2 linked regions of the Homo sapiens genome follow. The protein of the gene in region 1 purifies or fractionates together with the protein of each later gene. This does not show direct contact. Each region holds a gene or a part of one and is shown in the gene's direction. Other genes may lie near its edges.

Evidence for each region. The genes of interacting proteins can lie anywhere in the genome.
Region 2: the proteins of RBPMS2 (region 1) and PTH2R purify together in Homo sapiens (co-immunoprecipitation; one large-scale study listed by IntAct). This does not show direct contact.

Annotation. Positions count from the first base shown.
Region 1 is NC_000015.10:64,769,090-64,772,589, reverse strand, and holds part of RBPMS2 (RNA-binding protein with multiple splicing 2), read left to right. Parts: intron 1-3,500.
Region 2 is NC_000002.12:208,448,292-208,451,791, forward strand, and holds part of PTH2R (parathyroid hormone 2 receptor isoform 1 precursor), read left to right. Parts: intron 1-2,457; coding exon 2,458-2,518; intron 2,519-3,500. UniProt on the Homo sapiens protein: This is a specific receptor for parathyroid hormone. The activity of this receptor is mediated by G proteins which activate adenylyl cyclase. PTH2R may be responsible for PTH effects in a number of physiological systems.

The DNA of each region.
Region 1 (3,500 bases):
ACTACCTGGAGTTTGCTATATTGCAGCAATATCAGGCAGTGCAGCCATAATGAGAGTTTGGAATTAGGGCAGTAATGACTGTGGTATTACGGGAAAATTGGCATTTTTCTGCCACTTGGGAAGATGTGTTCGAAGCTTTGATACCCTTTGAAAGCTAAGGAGGGCAGTAAGGAATTAAGGGGAGGAGCTGAATGTCCCTCCCAATCTAGAGGTTGTGCTGTCCTGCAGGTAAGTCTTGACTGGAGCTGGGGACGACATGAGGTAATACAGTACATGAACCTGTCCGGGGCAGGCTGTATCAGTGCTGCCAAACTTCAGACCTAAATGTCCTGTCTTAGTGATTCTCAAGGGATAACTGGGTAATTACCATGTCTCTGAAGAGGGGTAAATGTGATTTCTATTTTGAAAGTGGAGACCTTGCTTTCATAATACAGTTGCTGTTGGCCTTCCATTTCTATGGGTTCCCTATCCATGAATCCAGTTGTAGATAAAAAATACAATAATAAAAAATAATACAAATAAATATAACAACTATTTACATAGCATTCACATTGTATTAGGTATTGTGAATAATCTAGAGATGAGTTAAAGTATCCAGAAAATGTGCATAGGTTATTTTTTTATTTGTTTGAAGGGGAGTTTCACTCTTGTCACCCAGGCTGGAGTGCAGTGGCACAATCTCAGCTCACTGCAACCTCTGCCTCCCAGGTTCAAGCAATTCTCCTGCCTCAGCCTCCTGAGTAGCTGGGATTACAGGTGCCCGCCACCATACCTGGCTAATTTTTGTTTTTTAGTAGAGACAGGATTTCACCATGTTGGCCAGGCTGGTCTTGAACTCCTGTCCTCAGGTGACCTGCCCACCTCAGTCTCCCAAAGTGCTGGGATTACAGGCCTGAGCCACGGCGCCCAGCCTTGTTTTGTTTTTGAGACAGTCTCTGTTGCCCAGATTGGGGTGCAGTGGCGCAATCTCGGCTCACTGCAACCTCCTCCCAGGTTCAAGTGATTCTCCTGCCTCAGCCTCCAGGATTGCAGGTGCACGCCACCATGCCTGGCTAATTTTTGTATTTTTAGTAGAGACGGGGTTTCACCATGTTGGCCAGGCTGGTCTTGAACTCCTGACCTCAAGTGGTCCATCCAGCTCGGCCTCCCAAAGTGCTGAGATTACAGACGTGAGCCACCGTGCCCGGCCTGTGCATAGGTTATATACAAATTTTATATAAGAGACTTGAACATCTGGAGATGTTGATATCCAAGGGGGAACCCTGGAACCAATCCGCCTCAGATATCGAGGGACAACTAAACGGTACGAGGTGATACTAAGTTATAGTAATTTTTAAAAACCACTTTTTTGAGGTATGATTGGCATATATAAAGGTGTATATTTAGTGTATACAACTTGAAGAGTTTGGAGATTGTTAAAGTAATTTTTAACTGGGGGGCACCCCTGGAAGGGGGAGAGTGGTATTTATACTATTGGGTTGAGGGAGGATATAAGTTTCTTAAGAGTTAAAAAAGTTTTTGCCAGCTTAATGGTAAGCTATAGAAAGGCAGGGGTTAATGGCAGCTAAGGGGGCTACAGTTTGACCTGAGGGGCTTTGCCCTTCCCTGCCCTTCCACCTCATCCCAGTGTGGCTGGGACAGGGCTGCTGCTTGCAGGCCTGGTATCCTAGAGCCCATCATGTGTCCTCAGAGGGGTGTCAGGAAGCAGCCAGAGCCCTGGGACCACTGGGTGGCTTGAGGTCAGCCCTCCCTGAGATGTGGGTGAACAGGTGCTTAGACTTGTGTGGATGGAACGGGGAGGGGGGTGTGGGAGGTGGGGGATAAGGCACTCTAGATGAGTGCGAGGTAATTCCTGGATCCAGTGTGCTATTTGGGCACCTCCCTTTTCTTTAACATCAATAGCATTTGAAAGCATCTGGGACATCTTGGTCTGCAGGCTTTTTTTGAATATGAGGGAATGGAGGCTTCTCTGTTTCTGGGCACTCACCTAGAAGCCCTGCCAGGCATATAGCAGTAGGAGGTCAGGTTCCCCTCCTCACTGGGAGTTATTGTGGATGTGTCCCCTCTGCCTAAGTAATCTAAGGGAGAGGCTGTACTAATAATAATGAACCTGTATGTTGTATTTATGCCAGGCATTGTTATATGTTCTGCACCATTTTAACTCTTAATCTTTGTAAGAGCATTATGAAGTACTTACATTATTATCACCATTTCATAAATGAGGAAAGTGAGGCACAGAGAGGTTAAATAACTTTCATGTAGCTATTAAGTGGGGAGGTTGGGATTTGAACCCAGAGTTTGCTCTTAACCACACAGTATACTGCTATTGTGTTTTATATTAGGGTTTTTGGTGAGACTGGAAGGCAGGGGGAGAAAGGTATCTGCAATTTTCTTTTTTTTTTCTTTTTTTTGAGACGGAGTCTCGCCATGTCACCCAGGCTGGAATGCAGTGGTATGATCTTGGCTCACTGCAACCTCTGCCTCCCAGGTTCAAGCGATTATCCTGCCTCAGCCTCCCAAGTAGCTGGGATTACAGGCGCGCACCACTACGGCCAGCTAATTTTTATATTTTTAGCAGAGACGGGGTTTCACTGTGTTGGTCAGGCTGGTCTCGAACTCTTGACCTCCTGATCCTCCTGCCTCGGCCTCCCAAAGTGCTGGGATTACAGGCGTGAGCCACCGCGCCCAGCCGGGTATCTGCAATTAAAGTTTCTAATGGCTGAGTTTTGGGTGATGCCAACCAGAAGCCCAGAGGCTGACTCCGGACTAGTTTCCTTTGGGCTGGTGGCATCCCAAGATGGGTGATGGGAGCTGTCAGCCCCTGCCAGGAGGGGCCTTTTATCACAGATATGATTTAGAGTTGCCATTGCACGAAGATAATAAACAAACCAAGCCAGTTTTATTTTATTTTTATTTATTTATTTATTTTTGAGATGGAGTCTCGCTCTGTCGCCCAGGCTGAAGTGCAGTGGCGCGATCTCAGCTCACTGCAAGCTCTGCCTCCTGGGTTCACGCCATTCTCCTGCCTCAGCCTCCAGAGTAGCTGGGACTACAGGCGCCCGCTGCTACGCCCGGCTAATTTTTTGTATTTTTTAGTAGAGATGGGGTTTCACCGTGTTAGCCAGGATGGATTTTATTTTTTAAATTCTTTTTTTTTTTTTTTTTGAGACGGAGTTTCGCTCTTGTTGCCCAGGCTGGAGTGCAATGGCGCGATCTCGGCTCACCGCAACCTCCACCTCCTGGGTTCAAGCAATTCTTCTGCCTCAGCCTCCCAAGTAGGGGGATTATAGGCATGTGCTACCACGCCCAGCTAATTCTGTATTTTTAGTAGAGATGGGGTTTCTCCATGTTGGGAGGCCTCGGCCTCCCAAAGTGCTGGGATTGCAGATGTGAGCCACTGCACCTGACCTAAATTCTTTTTTAAAAAATCTATATCCTTACACATCTTGCATATTTTTAAAATTCTTTTTTTTTTTTTTTTTTTTTTTTGAGACGAAGTC
Region 2 (3,500 bases), on another chromosome or scaffold:
ATATGTATCATATTCAACATTTTTAATTTGTAGTTATTTTAAAGTTAATTTAAAGTTTTGTCTTCACAAAACTTATTTATTTTGTATTGACGTGTCTTATGAAAATAACTCCACTTTGGGAGGCTGAGGTGGGCGGATCATGAGGTCAGGAGATCGAGACAATCCTGGCTAACATGGTGAAACCCCGTCTCTACTAGCCGGGCGTGGCAGCGTGCGCCTGCAGTCCCAGCTGCTGGGGAGGCTGAGGCAAGAGTATGGTGTGAACCCGGGAGGCGGAGCTTGCAGTGAGCCGGGATCATGCCACTGCACTCCAGCCTGGGTGACAGAGCAAGAATCCGTCTCAAAAAAAAAAAGAAAATAACTCAACTTTCAGTAAATGCACATACTAGATAACATTTAAATTTATATTAAATTTACTTAATTTAACATTTAAATTTAAAACAACATTTACATGTCAAGTATTTTTGCCTTTATTTCTGTGTTCTAAATTATGTAACAATTCATATTAAGACTCGTGATAAAAAATCCTTAAAGGATCCCAAAGTAGTTTTCTGTTCTTCATTCTTCCATGGTAGTCTCTATGCTAGTCTTATGCATAAGATTCTCTAAGAAGGTGAGAAAAGCAATTCTATGAAGACATAATGCCTGTGTACGATATTTGACATAATTATCATCTAAAACATAATGCCAACTCAACCACCATTAATAAATACTGTATAGAACAGCATTCAGGAAGTACCTGATCAGAAGAATGTAAAGGAAGCAGAAGATGCAGATATAAGAATGATAAGATGTGAAAATTGATGAAAGACAGGCAGACACTTTTTGAAGACAACCAAGATAGAACAGCTGAGGGATCTATGTCAGGCCATGTGGTAGAATCTATGCCAGACTGTATGGTGGATTTATATCTAATCATCCTACCAGAAGCAGCTGTCCCCTCCCCATTACATAGTATCACTTTTATTTATTCTTCATAGCACCAATTCATAACCAAAAGCAACTGAAGTTGCTTTGTTAATTTTGACTGCTTCACCAGAATATAAGTTTTAGAAAACAGGGATATTGTTTATTTGTTCATTATTTATATCATTTAGAACAATCTTTGACACATAAATAGACAATAAATGATTAATGGAGAAATGTGATAGATAGATAGATAAATAGATAGATAGATAGATAGATAGAATATGCAAACTGAACCTAAGAAATAACCAGAATTAGGTAGGTCTATTTTGACAAAAAATTCCTAGAACACAGAATTTGAGCAGATTAAAGAAAGAATACTATAGAAACAAGAAATAAAATTGGAATATAGAATCATAAAATTCAGTAGTGATATAGGCAGGCTGAACTTAAGTTAGATGGTCACTAAGGAGACCAAAGACATTATTGTGCATATCATCATTTTCATCTTTTTCTGAAAATTTTCTTTTTCTAAGCCTATTTCTTTGTTCACTTTGTTGCTAAGAAAGAATATAAAAAAATTACAATTTTTTTAAAGGTTAAGAATTTAAAGTTATGCTTGATAAAAAATGTTCTTGGCTAGACCAAAATTTTGTTTTCCCCTTTTGTAAGGTGCTTCCTAGATTCTAAAATGTTTTCCTTATGGTTTCTGTATATCCTTTATTTAAACCACTTTCATAAAGGCCACATAATGAAAAGTCATCTCTTAAGTCTTTCAGTCCCCTACTGCAGTATTCCATATAAGTTATGGTTCATGATTTTTTTGTGTGTGATGTCAGAGTTTAATCAAATACAACATGAGCTGGACAGTGAACTTTTACTGGGGGGCAAACGAAAGTCGGTATAATGGATTTGATGTTACAAGCCCAGAAGGTGTTTAGCACTTATGAAGGACAAATATCTCGCGCTCAAATCATCAGACAAATATAGTGGTCACCCTTTTCTATTAATGCATGAAAATGCTTCTGTCTTGTGCCAACGTGAACTAAAAGAAGAGACTAAACTGGTTAAAACTTCCTGATTTTTATAACTTGCCTCAGTATGCCTTCCATTTTTAGGATGAAAAAATTCTAAGTTTTTAAAACAACAGCATCCCTCAGCTTTTCAGGAGTCCCTGTGTTGCTTCACTCCTTGAGAGCATATGATGGTCAGCGTGACAAGAGTCAAAGTCAAATGCCAACCATTGCTTACTTCCAACCCTAGGAACTTCACTCTTCTCCAAATATGGCTTTTCCCTACACCCCTCAGATGAAAATTAGGCCAGTTTTTATCTTCAGACTAGAGGAACAAATAACATCAATATTCTTGCTAATTTCTCAAACTGACATGATTAAAAATTAAGTGGACTTTTCTTGTTCACATATCAGAAATTTTCATGTCTATTTTTATCTCTGAACAGCTAATAGTATATTCTTATATATGGTGAATTTGAGGAAAAAACCTCCTTAATCTTAAAATAAATCTAGTCTCTGAATCATTTTCTGATTTCAGGGTTTCCAGCAGCATTTGTTGCAGCATGGGCTGTGGCACGAGCAACTCTGGCTGATGCGAGGTGAGTGAAAAGGCAGGGGAAACGAGAGAACCTCAGATGTTCTCAAGACTCAGGCTTCCTGCTCAGAATTCACACTCGCTTCTGTTCTTGATGCCATTGCTTTTTAGGGATGCCACAAGGAAAATTACCTTGATGCGATGGTAGCTTCCAACACATTACCAGCAAGCTGTCTATTCCAGAGGTCATAGAGCAGAAACACTCGCAGACTAGATGAAGGTGCCTGACCTCCATAGATTAAGAAACAAATGTAAAATATAATGTGAGAAGCAAGTGGAAAGAGATGGGTAAGAGAATCCACTTAGGATTTAGTGAAAGCAGGTTGAAGAACTACACTACCTGATTCCTAGGATAGGCAGTGTTCATACTCTCTCTCTCTCTCTCTGCCACATCAACTTTTCCTGAGGATGGTGTGGTTATGAGGACCTGCGATAAGGTAGCACGAAGGGGAACTACAGACAGAATCTGGTGCCCTGGGCCAGTGACACATACTTCCTCATAGAGATGGAGAGGCAAGTACACTGGCTACATTTGTAGCTTCTGAATTAGCCTGCAGAGAAGTTCTGGGTTTTATTTGTGGCCCTTGGGAAAAGGACATGTGGGAAGGAGTTCCATCAATCCATGAATCCTCAAAATCAAAATATTTTTGAGGCTGATAATGCCCTCAAAAATATTAAGAACTTCCTTTGTATCAGGGATTGTTCATGGCTCTTGTATATTTAGTATATTATGAATGTTTAGAGCTCAGTTGCCTCATGTGTCTTTAGTACCTGGGTTTAACACACGTGTGGTCTACTAACTCATCCTTATCTATATTTAATGCAAACTGTGGGTTTCATGCATCCCATTTGTTACCATATCTTCTATAGCAGAATTAAATATTTTAAAATAATAAACACATATTAGAAGTGGAATTTATCTCTAACTGTGAGTCATTAAGTTCTTCCAGGTAGCATGGAGCTAATTTAATGTGTCATTTTAAAGT